4 linked regions of the Homo sapiens genome follow. The protein of the gene in region 4 purifies or fractionates together with the protein of the main gene of each other region. This does not show direct contact. Each region holds a gene or a part of one and is shown on either strand. Other genes may lie near its edges.

Region 1 (3,776 bases), on a different chromosome or scaffold from region 4:
ATTTTAAAATGTAAAAAAGCAACCATTAGTAATTCAATATCAAAATCACCCATGAATCTCTGAAATTTGATTTCAGATCTCTAACTTTTCTAAAGCAACTGTTTTTTTTCTCTTCCCCAGTATTTGTGCTCATCTTTTGTGCAAGTCACTTTGCAAACTGACTCATTATTTCTCAACCTAATCATTTACGGAAGGTTTCAATTATTAAAAAATCACTAAAAAGTTAAAATTAAGGAAGTTGTGTTATCATCAATTATGTCAAATTGTGAGTAGGATACACATCCTAAAGAGTATAGATCTGACTTTACTTGTACAAACTCTGCCAAATTAAATATAAGCTGTATATATTAATAGAAATTGGGAAACCATGAATTTAAAATTCTAAGAAAAAAATCTTTCCTCATTTTATTATTGTTAATATCAACATTATTTATAGATGCTTATGGAGAGCCCACTATTTGCCAGACACTTTACACAAATTCTCCCTGATCCATCCAAAAATCCTTAGGAAAAAACTGAACCTCAGAGGTTAAATAGTCGAGGCTATTACACAGGTACTAAGTAATGGCCCTGGAATTCAAATCCATGTCTGTCTGGCTCCAAAGGTTAAAAATTCATTCCAATGCTAACAATACGTAATACTAAAATAGGACACCAAATCTCTACAACTCTCCTTGCTTATTTTTTAATTATTATTATTATTTTTTTTTTGAGACAGAGTCTCACTCTGTCGCCCAGACTGGAGTGCAGTGGTGCGATCTTGGCTCACTGCAACCTCCGACTCCCGGGTTCAAGCGATTCTTGTGCCTCAGTCTCCCGAGTAGCTGGGACTACAGGCACCCACCACCATGCCTGGCTAATTTTTTGTATTTTTAGTAGAGACGGGGTTTCATCATGTTGCCCAGGGTGGTATCGAACTCCTGAGCTCGGGCAATCCGCCTGCCTTTGCCTCCCAAAGTGCTCCCAGCCTCCTTGCTTCTTTAAACTGCTGAAGGATAAATGAATGGTCCAGTGAATATGTGTCTCTTATCACCTTCCCAGCACTGAAATAATTATTCTTTGAGGCAGTATTAAGCCTTTATGCCTGAAGCTTAGGCTTTGCGATGTCTATGCTTACTGAAATCTACTTTGACACTTCTATAGTTAAACTGTTTTGAATAGTATACAACAGTAATATCCTTCTACTGGAGTCTAGGTGATCACTTCTCCAGAGGGATTTCAGTACTACAAGCTACATAAAATTAGCAGCTACTTTCCCCTCAGTGCTACTTAGAGGTAACCTCTAGGGGAAGGTTAAAAAGCCAAGGGAAGGCAGGGCACAGTGGCTCATGCCTATAATCCAACACTTTGGGAGGCCAAGGTGAATGGATTGCCTGAGCCCAGGAGTTCAAGACCAACCTGGACAACACAGTGAAATCCCATCTCTACAAAAAAAATGCAAAAATTAGCTGGGCATGGTGCCATGCGCCTGTAGTCCCAGCTATTCAGGAGGCTGAGGTGGGAGGGTCACTTGAACGCAGGAGGCCAAGGCTGCAGTGAGCCATGATCATACCACTGCACTCCAGCCTGGACAACAAAGCAAGACCCTGACTCGAAGAAAAAAAAAAAAAAGCCAAAGGAAGCATATATTTGGGTATTAAATGCTCAGAAGCTAGCCTATAAAAAAAATCAAGCAATGGATTAAAAAGAGGCTCTCTATTTGATTAAATAACGGTGATAACATCAATTTCAAGTATGAATTCCATGTTGGTGAGGGAAAATGAATTTCAATTCAATAAAAATTCTTTTCTAGCAGCTCCGCAAAATTTCACGGCTCATCTGTATTCAAAATCTTCTTCACTGATGGTACTTGTTTAGAAAGCACCAAGAAACAACGGTAATATAGAATTCTTCAAGTATACTTGTTTGGACAGTTGTATGTGGCTACTTATCCTGGCATCAAAGTAATCAGCACTAAAGATCAAAGGCTTCTGTGTGAATCCAGAATGCAACCCTGTTTGGATTCTAAGTCACGGAACCACAGAAAGAATCCCATAAATCAACTTCCACTGAATTTATGCCTATCATTTCCTTCTGGGCAAATTCATTCTAATAGATACTGGCAAAATAAGAAAGTCAAAACGGGTTGTATTTATTGTTAGTTATTAAATCTTTAAGCAGCAACAGCCATAAAGCTGTAGCTAATTCAGCCATGTTGCTGGTTCAAAAGAAAACTTAATTATCTTAAGCCAACAGCATTTCTAAAATCAATTGTGTAGGAAAGAGATTAACTGCTATTCTGATGTTGCTCTTAAAGCCAGAACTAGAAAATCCAGATAAATTATAATAATGGAAATAATTGTAAAGAAGAGAAGAGCTTACCAGCTACTTTTTGTCTTTTACTCATCTCACAACCAAGTTTTTTTCTTTCACTTTCCATTCATCCTCTTGTGTGAAAACTCTTTTATCATAATATGAAGGAAAAGCTGTGAGCAGTTTAGAGAACAGCTGCATGTATTCACAGAATCACAGTAACTTGGGCTGAAAGGAGGTTCCAAAGGCCATGGAATTTAACTACCTATTCAAGGAGTATATTTTTTTTGCCTATCTTCACTAAGTGGCCGATGGATGGAATGTTTTCTACCTACTGAAGTAGCTCATTGCATCTTATGATGGCTCTCTCACAAAGTTCCCCTTGGGAGGGCTGGACATGGTGGCTCACAACTGTAATCCCAGCACTTCGGGAGGCCGAGGCGGGTGGATCACCTGAGGTTAGGAGTTCGAGACCAGCCTGGCCAACATGGCAAAACCTTGTCTCTACTAAATATACAAAAATTAGCCAGGCGGTAGTGGTGCATGCCTGTAATCCTGGCTACTCGGGAAGAATAACTTGAGCCTGGGAGGCGGAGGTTGCAGTGAGCCAAGATCGCTCCACTGCACTCCAGCCTGGGCAACAGAGTGAGACTTTAAAAAAAAAAAAAAAAAAGTTCTCAGTAAACCAAAGTCTGTCTCTGTCTTACTATTGTCGCTACCTTGTTGTATCTCTAAGAGTCATTAAAAACAAATGTAAGCCCTCTTCCATATGAAAACTTTTATTTTTTCTATTTTTCTTTACTTCTTTTTCCTTTTTTCACTGTTTCTGTAGACACTGACATATGAAGTCCTTTCTAAAGAACATGACCCCCTTCTCCAGCTAACTTTATTCCTTTGAATGTTCCTAGTATGAAATGCTATTGAGTCCCCTGTGTTGGGTAAGGCACAAAAAATTTAATTTAAATGCATACCTATAATTATTTTAATTTTAAAAATTACTGTTTCAAACTTTGAGTTACCTAAACATATTGGCTACCAACTTCAAATCAGATGAGGTGTTGCTCAAGCATGGCAAAATCTTCCTTATAAATGTACATACTTACATGAAAACTCTCTAAATTCAGACTCGAGTATTTTTAATATTATTTAAATACAGGTTTAGCATTACTAATCTGAAAATCTAAAATCTGAAATGCTTGAAAATCCAAAACTTTTTGAACACTGATATGACACACAAATGGAAAATTTACACTTGATCTCATGTGATGGAGCACGGTCAAAATTTTCATGCACACAATTACTGAAAGTATTGTGTAAAATTACCTTTAGGCTATGTGTATAAAGTGTATATGAAACATAAATGAATCTCCTGTTTAGACTTGGGTCCCCTCCCCAAGATATCTCATTATATATTAATATGCAAATATTCCAAAATCTGAAAAAATCTAAAGTCTGAAACACTTCTGGTCCCAAGCATTTTGGAA
Region 2 (3,776 bases), on a different chromosome or scaffold from region 4:
CAGTTTCCCTCTCTGGAAAACAGGGGTACCACCTGTCTTTAGGGTTGCCCATGAGGACTGAAGGGAATAAGGCAGGCTGTGTGCCTGGCACAAGGGAGGCACTCAATCAGTGGTGGCCATCATCTCTATTATGTGGCTTCAGGGCTCTGTGAATTGCTTGCTGGGGCACTCAGGTTCTGGGAGGTTGCCGGGGCAGGTGGTATTAACCTCATTTTACAGACAAAAGAGCAAAAATCAACACTCAGCTCAGAGAGGCTAAAAATCAGAGAACCTGAATTAGAGCCACTCAGAGCCAGGCCTCCTGACTCCATCTCCGTTTCAAGCAGCCTCGGGGGCTCTGCACCCACCTCTGGCCCCCAGATGGCATCCCCAGGCACTGCCTGTCTGCACAGCACACGTACCTGGGGCTGGGCTCGGTGTGGGCTGGCTCATTTCGCCCAGCGGGTAGCCAAAGTTCCTCACTAGCAGGGTCATGTCCTCGTGCCGGGGGCAGAACCTGGCACGCTCCCCACCACTGGCGAAGGTGTCGCTGTGGATGCGCTTCACCCGGTCCACGACGGCCTGGGCCACTGCGTCCAGGGAGGTCTGCTTGGCAAACTCAGTGTCAATCATCGCAGCAATCTCCTGGGGGAGGGGGTAGGAAGAACCTGGTAAGGAACGAGGTGCGGCCTGGGGGGCATGGGCCATAATCTTGGAGCCTAAAATCAGGAGATTCAGTGGTCAACAGCCCAGCAGGTGAAGGAAATGCCTGCCAGCCAAGTTTGCAATCTGAGCCTTTCAAGGTATTCAGGATAATCCTTCTGGAACTTTCTCATTAGGAAGTGTGTGCTCTTGTGATTGCTCTAATTGTTGGGTGCACACCTCTAGGATGGGGAGAACATCCATTTGACTGGGTGAATACGAGTATTAACTAACAGTGGTGTGAGAGCACTCTGCCAGCCACTAAAAAGCCTAGTAGCAAGTGTCATTATTATGAAACACTCTTTCCTGGAACAAACTTGTTGTAGGCGATGTTATACATGCTAGGATTTTGTCAGGAACTGGGGATACAGAATGAAAACAGGGTCCCTGACCTCAGAGAAGTCCCTGTCTAGTATACAGATGTTCCTCAATTTAGGATGGGACTATGTCCTGACAAACCCACTGTAAGTTGAAAATATCATAAGTTGACCGGGCACAGTGGCTTGCGCCTGTAATCCCAGCACTTTGGGAGGCTGAGGTGGGAGGACTGCCAGAGGTCAGGAGATCGAGACCAGCTTGGCCAACATGTTGAAACCCCGTCTCTACTTAAAAATACAAAAATTAGCTGGGCATGGTGGCACATGCCTGTAATCCCAGCAACTTGAGAGGCTGAGGCAGGAGAATTGCTTGAGCCCAGGAGACGGAGGTTGCAGGGAGCCGAGACCAGCCTGGCCAACAGGGCAAGACTCTGTCTCAAAAAAAAAAAAAAAAAGAAAATATCGTAAGTTGAAAAAGCATTTGGCCGGGCGTGGTGGCTCACACCTGTAATCTCAGCACTTTGGGATTCTGAGGCAGGCCGATCATGAGGTCAGGAGATCGAGACCATCCTGGCTAATACGGTGAAACCCCATCTCTACTAAAAATACAAAAAATTAGCCGGGCGTGGTGGCGGGTGCCTGTAGTCCCAGCTACTCGGGAGGCTGAGGCAGAATGGCGTGAACCCGGGAGGTGATCAGTAAGCCCAGATCGAGCCACTGCACTCCAGCCTGGGTGACAGAGCGAGACTCCATCTCAAAAAAAAAAAAAGAAAAGAAAAAGCATTTAATGCACCTAATCTACTGAACATCATCACTTAGCCTAGCCTACCTTAAATGTGCTCAGAACACTTCTATTAGCCTACGGCTGGGCAAAATCATCTAGCACAAAGCCTATTTTCATTATTATATAAGAAAATGTTGAATCCCATGTAATTTTTTTTTTTTTGAGACAGAGTCTCACTGTGTTGACCAGGCTGGAGTGCAGTGCTGTGATCTCAGCTCACTGCAAGTTCCATCTCCCAGGTTCAAGAATTCTCCCGCCTCAGCCTCCCGAGTAGCTAGGATTACAGGCGTGCGTCACTATGCACCAGATAATTTTTTTTTTTTTTTGTATTTTTAGTAGAGATGGGGTTTCACCGTATTAGCCAGGATGGTCTCGATCTCCTGACCTAAAGTGATCTTCCCGCCTCAGCCTCCCAAAGTGCTGGGATTACAGGCGTGAGCCACCACGCCCAGCCGAATCTCATGTAATTTATTGAGTACTGTTTTGACAGTGAAAAACAGAATGGTTGTAGGGGTATGGGAGCACAGTTCCCACTGAATATGTATCACTTTCTCACCATCATAAAGTTTCTTTTGGGCGGGGCAGGAGGGCAGGGACAGGTAATAGGAAATGACCTGCACCTGGTCCTGGTGGGCTCAGTTTCAACACTAAGCAGCAACGTCACTTCTGGCAAGAACCTGAACTCCGTGGACCCCAAATTCCCTACTCTACCTGGAAATAAGCCCCTGTCCCTCTATGTTATAAGGCTACTGGAAGGAATGGTAAGCTTATATAACAGGTAAAGAAATCAGAACACAGGCTGGGCGCAGTGGCTCATGTCTATAATCCCAGAACTTTGGGAGGCCAAGGCAGGTGGATCATCTGAGGTTACGAGTTCAAGATAAGCCTGGCCAAAAAGGCAAAACCCCATCTCTACTAAAAATACAAAAATTAGCCGGGTGTGGTGGTGGCACATGCCTGTAGTCCCAGCTACTCAGGAGGCTGAGGCAGAAGAATGACTTGAACCCGGGAGGTGGAGGTTACAGTGAGCCGAGATTGCACCACTGCACTCCAGCTTGGCCAACAGAGCAAGACTCCATCTCAAAAAAAAAAAAAAAAAAAAAAAAGAAATCAGAACACAGGGAACAGGGGATAGTTAGGCACTTGAGACTTTTTCGAAGTAGATCTGCATTCAATCCAGCAGTCTGGGCATCTACCTAAAGGAAAATAAGTCATTATATGAAAAAGATACTTGCACACGTATGTTTATAGCAGCACAATTCACAATTGCAAAGATGTGGAACCAGCCTAAGTGGCCATTGACTAATGAGCAGATAAAGAAAATGTATCTATAAACTATGGAATACTACTCAGCCAGTAAAAGGAAAGAATGAATGTCTTTTGCAGCAACTTGGATGGAGATGAAGGCCATTATTCTAAGTAACACAGGAGTGGAAAACCACAAACTATGTTCTCACTCGTAAGTGGGAGCTAAATGATGGGAATGCACAGGCATACAGAGTGATATAATGGAACTTTAGAGACTCAAGGCGGGAGGATGGCAGTGGTGCTAGGGATAAAACACTATACATTAGTTACAATGTACACTATAAAACACTATACATTAGTTACAACGTACACTATAAAACACTATACATTAGTTACAATGTACACTATAAAACACTATACATTAGTTACAATGTACACTATAAAACACTATACATTAGTTACAATGTACACTATAAAACACTATACATTAGTTACAATGTACACTATAAAACACTATACATTACTTACAATGTACACTACTGGAATAACTGGTTTACTAAGATCTCAGAATTCACCACTACATAATTCATCCCTATAACAAAAAAATACTGGTACCTCAAAAGCTACTGAAATAAAAATTAATTTTCAAATTTTAAAGAAGACTTTTTCCTCATGATATTGATTGATTGATTGAGACAGAGTCTTGCTCTGTTGCTCAGGCTGGAGTGCAGTGGTGCGATCTTGGC
Region 3 (3,776 bases), on a different chromosome or scaffold from region 4:
CTAGGAAGACAACACACATTTTAACATTTTTTTCCTCTCCTCTTTAGCCTTGCTTAACAGCCCGAAGAGAAACTTTTCCAAATGCCCAGAACCTGCAACAGAAGACAACAGTCAAACTCCAGCCTCACCTTTTTGTACAGCTCCCAAGAGCCTCATTAGAGAGAAGTTGGAGGTTGTAAGTCCGGCAGGGGGTTCCAAACTCCTTATATGAGTTGAGCTTCGTTCCAACAAAGAAACTATGGTTCCAAACAGAAGTCACTGTCATTGTTTACCGAAACGTACCCCCTTCCCTAACATCCAGTGCCGAAGGATCCACGGCTAAGCCTCAGGAAGAGCATATTCTAAACAGGTGCATTAAAGATTTCTGCATTGGACTGCAGCTAAGTGTTGAAAGTCAAATCAATTACAGGTTGAAAAAATGTTTTTCAAAAGGCCAAGGGACCCCTGAAAATCAGGGCGTCTACTTGTTTTTTGGTCTGCTGAGTACCCTGGCCAGGTGATTGATGCGCATGTGCTTCATGAAGTGAGTCTCTTACATCATCTTTTTGTTTTTGACACAGTCTCACTCTCTCGCCCAGGCTGGAGTGCAGTGGCATGATCTTGGCTCACTGCAACCTCTACCTCCTGGGTTCGAGTGATTCTCCTGCCTCAGCCTCCCGAGTAGCTGGGATTACAGGCACACGCCATCACGCCAGGCTAATTTTTGTTATTTAGTAGAGACGGGGTTTCGCCACTTTGGCCAGGCTGGTCTTGAACTCCTGACCTCATGTGTTCTGCCCGCCCCAGCCTCCCAAACTGCTGGGATTATAGGCATGAACCACTGCGCCTGGCCTCTTTTACATATTCTATCATCTGCTAAACATGTCAGCTAAAAGCGTGACTTTCTCCTTTTATGATTGTGACTTGCCCACAGTCAACATGCCTGTTCTATCACCCTATCGCTATTATTGGCCAGCAAACATTTCCTATTTATGTTCAGTGCATGAATAACTTAAGCAGAACCAGAAAAGAGGGCTTATGCAGGCCGGGCGCGGTGGCTCACGCCTGTAATCCCAGCACTTTGGGAGGCTGAGGTGGGTGGATCACGACGTCAGGAGATTGAGACCATCCTGGCTAACACTGTAAAACCCCGTCTCTACTAAAAAACAGAAAAAATTAGCCGGGCGTGGTGGCGGGCGCTTGTAGTCCCAGCTACACGGGAGACTGAGGCAGGAGAATGGCGTGAACCCAGGAGGCGGAGCTTGCAGTGAGCAGAGATCGCTACACTGCACTCCAGCCTGGGCAACAGAGCAAGACTCTGCCTCAAAAACAAAAAAAAGAGGGCTTATGCTCCTTAATCACATTTCTCCTGTACATGGTTTTCTCCATGTTTTATGACAGGTAATCTCTACTACTGATAGTTCTCTAGTCTTGGTTTGGTTCATCAAGATAAAGAAGAAATTAAACACCGACAACAGGTTTAGCAAGTGTGGTAAAAGTTGCTGTGGATGTAAAAATATCCAAATGATCATTAAAGAACAATGAAAAGAATCATGCTGGCTTCCAAGAAATTGCACAGAAGATAATTCTCTTGCAAGGTGAAGGTTAGTCTCTTAAAAAAAAAACCCATTCATCTTGGAAAAAATTTGAGGAAAACGGTGTAAAGAGACAACTTCCTGAAAATTGCAACCATGTTGTCAGCAGTGTCAGGATCACGTGGCTCCCTGACCTTGCCCTGCTTTCTCCAGTCAGGTGAGCCTACTGTCCTGACCTGCAGTTAATTCAGTAACTGTTAGCTCACTGGCCCTGCCTTTTAAGTACCAAAGGAATGAGTTGGCTTCCTGAGAAGGGCAAATGACCTATCAAAGGTCTTGCCTGAGTGAGAAAAGGTATAGCCCATTCTCTTGTGCAAAGATTCCAATAAAACTCTAATTTGCAGTCATTGGAGACAGTCATTGCCTGGTGAAATTACAAAGCTTTTTAAGGAGCCAATGGCACCATCTTTTAATCCCTATAGATTGATATGGCCTTGAAGTCCTTGGCCAATGGAGGGATCAGGGCTTGACCTGATCCTAGGGTCTCTCTCCTCTAGTATCTTGTGTTCATTTGGTGGTAACATCAAAGTCTGAACACTGATCCTGGATCCAACTTCAATAGTTTTTCAGTTTATAATAGAAGTAGAGGCCCTATGATGATTACACCTTATTTACTGTCTTGATGTAGAAGTCCCAAACTAAGTACAACATTTATTAGTTACAGACTATGAGCAATAAAAGGGATTAAAATAGTTTCTCACCACTATTTGGAAGGAACTTGTTACTGAAGAAAAAATTCTATTTTCCCTCCTATATCCTGTCTCATAACCTTGGTAATTTAATGTTTTAAGTTACTGTATCTTATTATTGTATTCTTAGGAGCTAACAGTGAAATGTATCAATAACATATCAAACAAGGTATTGACTTCTATCTGTGGTCTTTAAACTCTACTTGAGGCTTACTGTTTGGGAGAGTTAGTAGTTAATACCTCCAGGTTCACCTGACTCTTCTATCTGTGGTCTTTAAACTCAACTTGAGGTTCACTGTTTGGAATAGTTAGTAGAGTCAGACGAACCTGGGTTTGAATCCTGATTCTGTCACTTACTGCATGAACATAGGGAAGTCACTTAATGTCTGAAGCTCAGGCCAGGCCTGGTGGCTCACACCTGTAATCCCAGCACTTTGGGAGGCCAAGGCGGGAGGATCACCTGAGGTCAGGAGTTCGAGACCAGCCTGGCCAACATGGCAAAACCCCATCTCTACTTAAAAAAAAAAAAAATTAGCTGGGCGTGGTGGCAGGCACCTGTAATCCCAGCTACTCTGGAGCCTGAAGCAGGAGAATCGCTTGAACCTGGGAGGTGGAGGTTGCAGTGAGCCGTGATTGTGCCATTGCACTCCAGCCTGGGAGACAGAGCAAGACTCTGTCTCAAGAAAAAAAAAAAAAGATGTCTGAAGCTCAGATTCCTCAAGAGGAATAAGAGGGTGGGACAGTGGTGTCACTCAGAGCTGTTATGAGGATTAAATGACATAATGTATCTAGCATAACGATAGTCATAGTCATCACAGATAAACGTCAGGTCCCTCACTTTTTCCTCTAAAATGAAAAGTGTGTATCAAGGACACTCCTAAGCACTATAAAATGTAGTACAGAAAATACACAAGTCCTTCAATTTGGTAGAGAGATTTATCATGGGGGGAGTGTGTGCATCTGCAACTGAAAAACACAGAAGGCTGGACACGGTGGTTCACACCTGTAATCCCAGCACTTTGGGAGGTTGAGGCGGGCAGATCACCTGAGGTCACGAGTTCAAGACCAGCCTGACCAACACGGAGAAACCCCATCTCTACTAAAAATACAAAATTAGCCGGGCGTGGTGGCGCATACCTGTATCCCAGCTACTTGGGAGGCTGAGGCAGGAGAATCGCTTGAACCCAGGAGGCAGAGGTGAGCCAAGATCACACCACTGCACTCCAACCTGGGCAATGAGCAAAACTCTGTCTCAAAAAACAAACAAACAAAAAAACAAAACACACACACACACAGAAAAGTATGGCACTATAACAAACATGGTTTTAGTTATGGTGTATTTTCTACAACATGGTTTAGTGGAAAAGATTAAACTAGGCCTCAGGAAACTAGGTTCTCCTTGCAGCTCTACTATTTATTGGCAACACAAACTTGGACAAATCACTTATGCTCTCTGTGCCTGTTTCATCATCCACAAAATAGGATAAATTCACTCTGCCCACCTCTCTGTCCA
Region 4 (5,406 bases):
CCTGAGAACCAGGAACGCACCCTCTCTGTGGAGCTCTGACTGGTGTAGCTGGAAACAAACAGCAACTTGCAAACGGACGAAGAGCCTGCCGTGTGTTAATCATTTGCCTTACAAGATGTACCAGACGGTTTCCAGTACTAACAAAGGGAATAAAAATACCTCACGCCACAATCCAGCATATTGATGTTTTAAGGCAAAACAACCAACTTTGTCTGTAGTCTTCATTTTCTGTGTGGGGGGGGAGGGGGGAAGGGGACACTCCAGCAAGGGTTTCTAAAGCCCCAGTGTTCAGAGTGACACAGGGAGGGCCTGCCCCCCACTGTTCCCTATGCTCCCCCCACCTCCAGGCAGGGGCAGAGCAAACAAACAGCTCCGGGCCACACAGCAGCATCAGGCTCCCTCCAGAAGTCACCACTCACTCATTCCTGGAGACTTGGGGACAAGGCAGTCTCCTCAGCTATTTATTTCTGAATGATTGATTGATTCCAAACTACTTGCTGGACACTGGTGGTTCTGACCTGTGACCAGCACCTCTGCTTCCTGTGTGCCCTCAAGAAAATACTAGTGTGGGTAACAGTCCATCTGAGTGGAGTTTGAGACACACTACACATGAGACACACAATGATGCAGATACTCGTTTTCTTGAGCTTTATTGGCCCCTGCATGATACAGTCCCTGTGCTTAAGAACATGCCCTATTAGGTCACTCTGCCTTTGCTGACACATTTTATAGCAGAAATACACAAGCTGTTTTTAAAGGAGGGAAATATAAAAAATGTTTATAAACTGACAGTGTTTTGCCAGAGGAAAGGTACAAAATGCTACATACAGAACCAAACCAGCCACTTCACAAGAGCAATGCAGGGATAAAACTATTGGATAAGGAAGGCAGATGCACTTCCAAGAAAATCAGAACCCAGCAAGAAGTGGCCAGTGCACCCCAAACCACACTGGTGTCCACCTCATTGGCAGCAGCCAGCCAGGACACAGCTCAAAAACGCAGGAGCTACCAGCCACCCAGTCCACGGCCCTCGTCTCCCAGAGGCTGAGTACCTCCCCAGGCTGCAGGCTCTGGGCAGCTGAGCCAGGAGCAGCTCAGGGCTGGCACTGAGAGGCTACTGGTGACAGTAAACCCGTCTCAAAGGCTGGGCCTGGCTACAGACCAGCAGCAGTTGACGCTGAGGCAGGTTCCAGTGGTAGCCCTGGTGCCTGGGCTCTCTCTTAATGCAGGCCTGGAAGTGGCGACACAAAAGCCAGCTTCCTTGGCTAAGATGCCCTTAAAAACATTGGGGCTGATTTTGTGCGTCTACAGAAAGTAACAGCCCAGGAGAGAATGTACACAGAGGCGAGCTTTCTAACTCCATCAAACCCCACCTCCCCCGACAGGAAATGCTGCCAGTCAACTCTAAAAGAACCACTTGTTGCTCTACGGGGGAAGGGGCTGAGTATGATTTGTCTGGCGACTGCAGAGACTCCCCGTTCATACCAGTATTCATTAGAACCCAGTCCCTCGAGCGGCTCACCCACTGTTACTAGCATGAGACTGGCTTCAGTGCTAAAAACTGTGATGTCATTGTCCATTTGTAAATCTGAAGAACTCTGTAAATCAGAAAAGCTGCTGTCCGCCCTGGCTCACTTAAAAATCAGGTAACGGCACACCCTGGGGAACACAGACTCAATCTGTGTGATTCGCAAGGACAAAACTCATCTTTGACTTATGCCGCCGGCCTCACGTAAGGAAACAGTTCCCCACACAGAATACTCCCTGGAAACACAAAATGAAATCTTCTCCAATTTTATTATTCAACATAACATTCTTGTATGGAGTAATGAGTACAATAAGAATTAGCAACTCAGTTCTATTTCCCCAACCAAAATATATCCCTTATACAAATTAAGAGTTCAACCCAAATCCACTTCTAATAAAATACCTCAATTTTAGAGCTTAAAAACCAGACTGCACTAGCAAACCGACACAATAACCCACTCAAGCATCTGTAGCTCAGGGCTCTGTCCCCTCCCTATAGCTTAGAGGCCACTAGACCAGCAGATAGCTGAGCTACATCCCCAAGCTCACCCACTAACTTCCTTGCTTCCAAAAATCCTGTCTTAACTCCACAAGAACTGGCACACCCACGGGAGATGTCAATCATCAGCTTCAACAAACATAAAAGAATGCTTCATGTACCAGTCAACAGCTGCTGCACGAACCCTCCCACTCCAGAAACCCAGAGATTTTCCCCCTCGCCAAGCAAGGTCCCACAGCAAACCAAGAAAAACAGACACACTGGCTGCCTGCCTAGCAAGCATAGGCCCCTTCCAGAGAAGCAAAATAACTCTTAAGGTCCCCGGCAACCGCTACAGCAATCGCACAGATCAGCAACCTCCAACTGCATCATCTCGGTGAGCAAGTGCGCAAGCAGTCCAGGGCGCTGACCTGGGCACTCGGCAGCTCCAGGCCTGGGGACTTCTCCCTGGAGTCTTCCAAAGTGTCTCATCACACACACACAGCCACGAGTACACACGCACGGCCACACATACACAGCAGGTGCCCTGTCCTCTGAAGAGTCACATTTCAAGGAGTATGCAAAATAAGCGTGTTATAAAATTTATTTGTGTAAGCATTCAGACATTTTTAGGTGGGAAAGATGATATGCAGAATCCACTACAAGGTGCAACAGAAAATCGTATTGGAAAGGACGGTACATCTGGCGCAGACCAGCAGTGGCACGATTCCAAACAAATGTCAGACGAGAGCGCTTCATGGGGAGAAACTGAAAATTATAATTTAAAGCTTCATGAGGCAAGATATGTTCCAATTTAAAACACTAAGAAATAGTACCATCGATGAAAAAGGAAATCAACCTCTAGGTGTACCAAAAGGGGCGTAGGGCAAACGGGGAAAATTTGCATTTGTTGAGGTACAAATAGGAGTGTTCTGTAAGAGAGGGGCATTAATTATTAATGACAAACCCTGCAAATACAAAATAAAACCCAAATCACTGGTCACAGAATTCAAAATGTACATGTAATAAAGGCAAGGCAATAGACTCAAGTTATGGCCTGTCGAATATTTACTCCACTGACGTTATCTACAGAAGCACTTGGCCAGTTTGTACACAGTGATTCCTTATGCACGCCGAAAGGGTTTCCGTAAAAATGACATTATATACAAATCTGTACACCCATCCACCAGAGCGATTCTCCAGCTCCCAGAGGGAGTTATCAACTTAAAGCAGGATACCTGAGGTTTCATGTCTTTAGTTGCCTTATCATAATCCCAAATATACATTTCAGGGTTTGTTTTTGTTTTTAAAGACACTTTCCTGGAATATGTGCACTATGGTTAAAATTAAAAACAAAAGTAATAAAATAAAATAAAATGATCGCTGGAAGGAGCTGACCCTCCCCACCCATCTGAGAGACTTCATCTGGCTGCAGCACAGTGAAGACTGTGTGTGTCCCTGGACGGGCGCCTGGCGCTGGGGTGGCTCCCAGTGGCGCACCTCTTCGGTGGAGTCAGCGAAGGCTCTCGTTGACTTTTAAAAAAGGAGGAGGATGAAGAAGGAAAAAAGGAAAAACAAAACCCCAAATGCCAAAGGAATTTCAGTGGGATGAAGTTCCTCCACCACTTAGAGAGTATCTAGGGAAAAAGAGAGAGAGAGAAGTCAACACATGTCATTTCTCATCCCTGTGCAAAAATTCATATAGTAACCAAAATCTTAGTTTTCATAAGAAATTCCAAGTCATACAAAAATAAGTGGAGCAAATATCAATGTGTAAGTCTAATTTTAAAAGAATGCATATAAAGACTGAGAAGATCATGATTCTTACACAAAAACTCCAGAGCATGTCACCAAAAACCAAGAATGGGTTCAGCCTCCCTGGAGAGATGTGAATAAAACGGGAAATCATATCCCTTTTACTTACGATCAATTGTCAAAAAGTGAACATTGATCCATACATGATGACACAGTAAGATTCCAGGGATGCATATGCATTCCCGATGTGAGGGCAGGAAACCCATTTTGGCCATAAAAATAGTGATGCAGTCCAAGAATCTATTTCCTAGAACTGCTTCCGAAATATGGTCCAAAGCAGGAACAACGTGTCTGCACAAAGATGTCTCTCGGGATTTTCGTAATTACACTAATTTGGAAACAACTCTGATGCCCAACAGTACAGAATCAGTTAAGTAAATTATACAAACTGAAATAACAGACTAAAAATGGTAATTATCTGTATTTACATATATATATTAAAGCAATATTAAAAATATGTACAAGTTTAAAAGTACATACAAAATTACAGATTGGGCATCCCTTATCTGAAATGCTTCTGGCTTTGGATCTGGGAATATCCGCATTATACTTACCAGTGTGCAGCCCCAAATCCGAAATCTGACATGCCCCAGAGAGCAGTTCCTTTGAGCCCCATGCTGGCGCTCAAAAGTTTCAGATTGGGGATTTGGGATATTCAGCCTGTATATGTGCACTATATAAGTATATTTACATGAACAACTTCTGTATCCTAAATTAAGTACTATAGAAATTCTAAAAAATCTTCTTTGCACTATAAGGTAGATAAGAGAATTCAGTAAGTTTATGACCTGGTATGACAACAGAAGGCAATGCACCCAAAGATGCTGATGAGATTTGGGCTACAGTGGTGGGATCATGGGTAATTTCTGTGTCTTCCAAAAATTCTACAAGATTGTCTTCAGAAGACAACAAAGGGTGAGAACGGGGTCCCCTCATGACCACAATTCCCTCAACCATTTTACAACAGACTCCAAATCACAGGTCCAGGAGAGATGGCTGAGGATGTCTTTGACCAGGCTTATCTCAAACGTTCCAATCTAGAGCTCCTCTTTTCAGGCATTTGAAATACTTGGCATCTCTCCCAGAGAACAAATGGTTACATAAGGTCCTCCCAAAAGCACACATTAGCCACGGAGCCTAAGACTCAACTATCAAGAAATACAAATGACTAAATCACGGGATGAGTTGATGTCACACAAAAGAATCCAAACATTAATTCCAGCTGAGACAGAAAGGCTCTGAAAATGCTTCAGAGGAGAGGCGGCTCTCATTTTTCCTACAGCCATCCACTGAAACAACATGTTTGGAGCAAAACTGGCAGGAAGTCTAAGCCATGGCCACCGTGGTTTTGGCAGCCATCGGGGTGAACGCTCAGTGGGAGCTTCAGGAGCAGGGAAGGAAGAAGTGGGTACCACAGCCAAGCCTGCAGAGAGATGATAAGCACCTCAAGAGGCAGCTCATCTGAGGACAGAGGAGGAAAGAGGGCACTCCTCATCACAGACAAAGGAAAGAGAGCACCAACTTGGCTTCCCCCATGCATCACTGCAAAGTAAAGTTTTAAACACAACACAGACATCAGGTAGCTA

The links.
Region 1: the proteins of FARP1 (region 4) and MRPS35 purify together in Homo sapiens (affinity purification with mass spectrometry; one large-scale study listed by BioGRID and IntAct). This does not show direct contact.
Region 2: the proteins of FARP1 (region 4) and TAB1 purify together in Homo sapiens (affinity purification with mass spectrometry, with the first as the bait; one large-scale study listed by BioGRID). This does not show direct contact.
Region 3: the proteins of FARP1 (region 4) and MTNAP1 purify together in Homo sapiens (affinity purification with mass spectrometry; one large-scale study listed by BioGRID and IntAct). This does not show direct contact.

Annotation. Positions count from the first base shown.
Region 1 is NC_000012.12:27,738,103-27,741,878, reverse strand, and holds part of MRPS35 (small ribosomal subunit protein mS35 isoform 1 precursor), read right to left. Parts: intron 1-3,776.
Region 2 is NC_000022.11:39,423,551-39,427,326, reverse strand, and holds part of TAB1 (TGF-beta-activated kinase 1 and MAP3K7-binding protein 1), read right to left. Parts: intron 625-3,776; coding exon 402-624; intron 1-401. UniProt on the Homo sapiens protein: Key adapter protein that plays an essential role in JNK and NF-kappa-B activation and proinflammatory cytokines production in response to stimulation with TLRs and cytokines.
Region 3 is NC_000017.11:73,238,704-73,242,479, reverse strand, and holds part of MTNAP1 (mitochondrial nucleoid-associated protein 1), read right to left. Parts: intron 380-3,776; exon of another isoform or gene 237-379; coding exon 129-236; exon of another isoform or gene 58-128; coding exon of another isoform or gene 48-57; intron 1-47. Other genes in the region: CPSF4L (putative cleavage and polyadenylation specificity factor subunit 4-like protein), read left to right, coding at 48-57. UniProt on the Homo sapiens protein: Critical regulator of mitochondrial DNA (mtDNA) abundance. Binds dsDNA throughout the mitochondrial genome without sequence specificity and controls mtDNA copy number by promoting its replication.
Region 4 is NC_000013.11:98,449,568-98,454,973, forward strand, and holds part of FARP1 (FERM, ARHGEF and pleckstrin domain-containing protein 1), read left to right. Parts: 3' UTR 1-3,605; coding exon of another isoform or gene 3,606-3,642; 3' UTR 3,643-5,406. Other genes in the region: STK24 (serine/threonine-protein kinase 24 isoform a precursor), read right to left, coding at 3,606-3,642. UniProt on the Homo sapiens protein: Functions as a guanine nucleotide exchange factor for RAC1. May play a role in semaphorin signaling.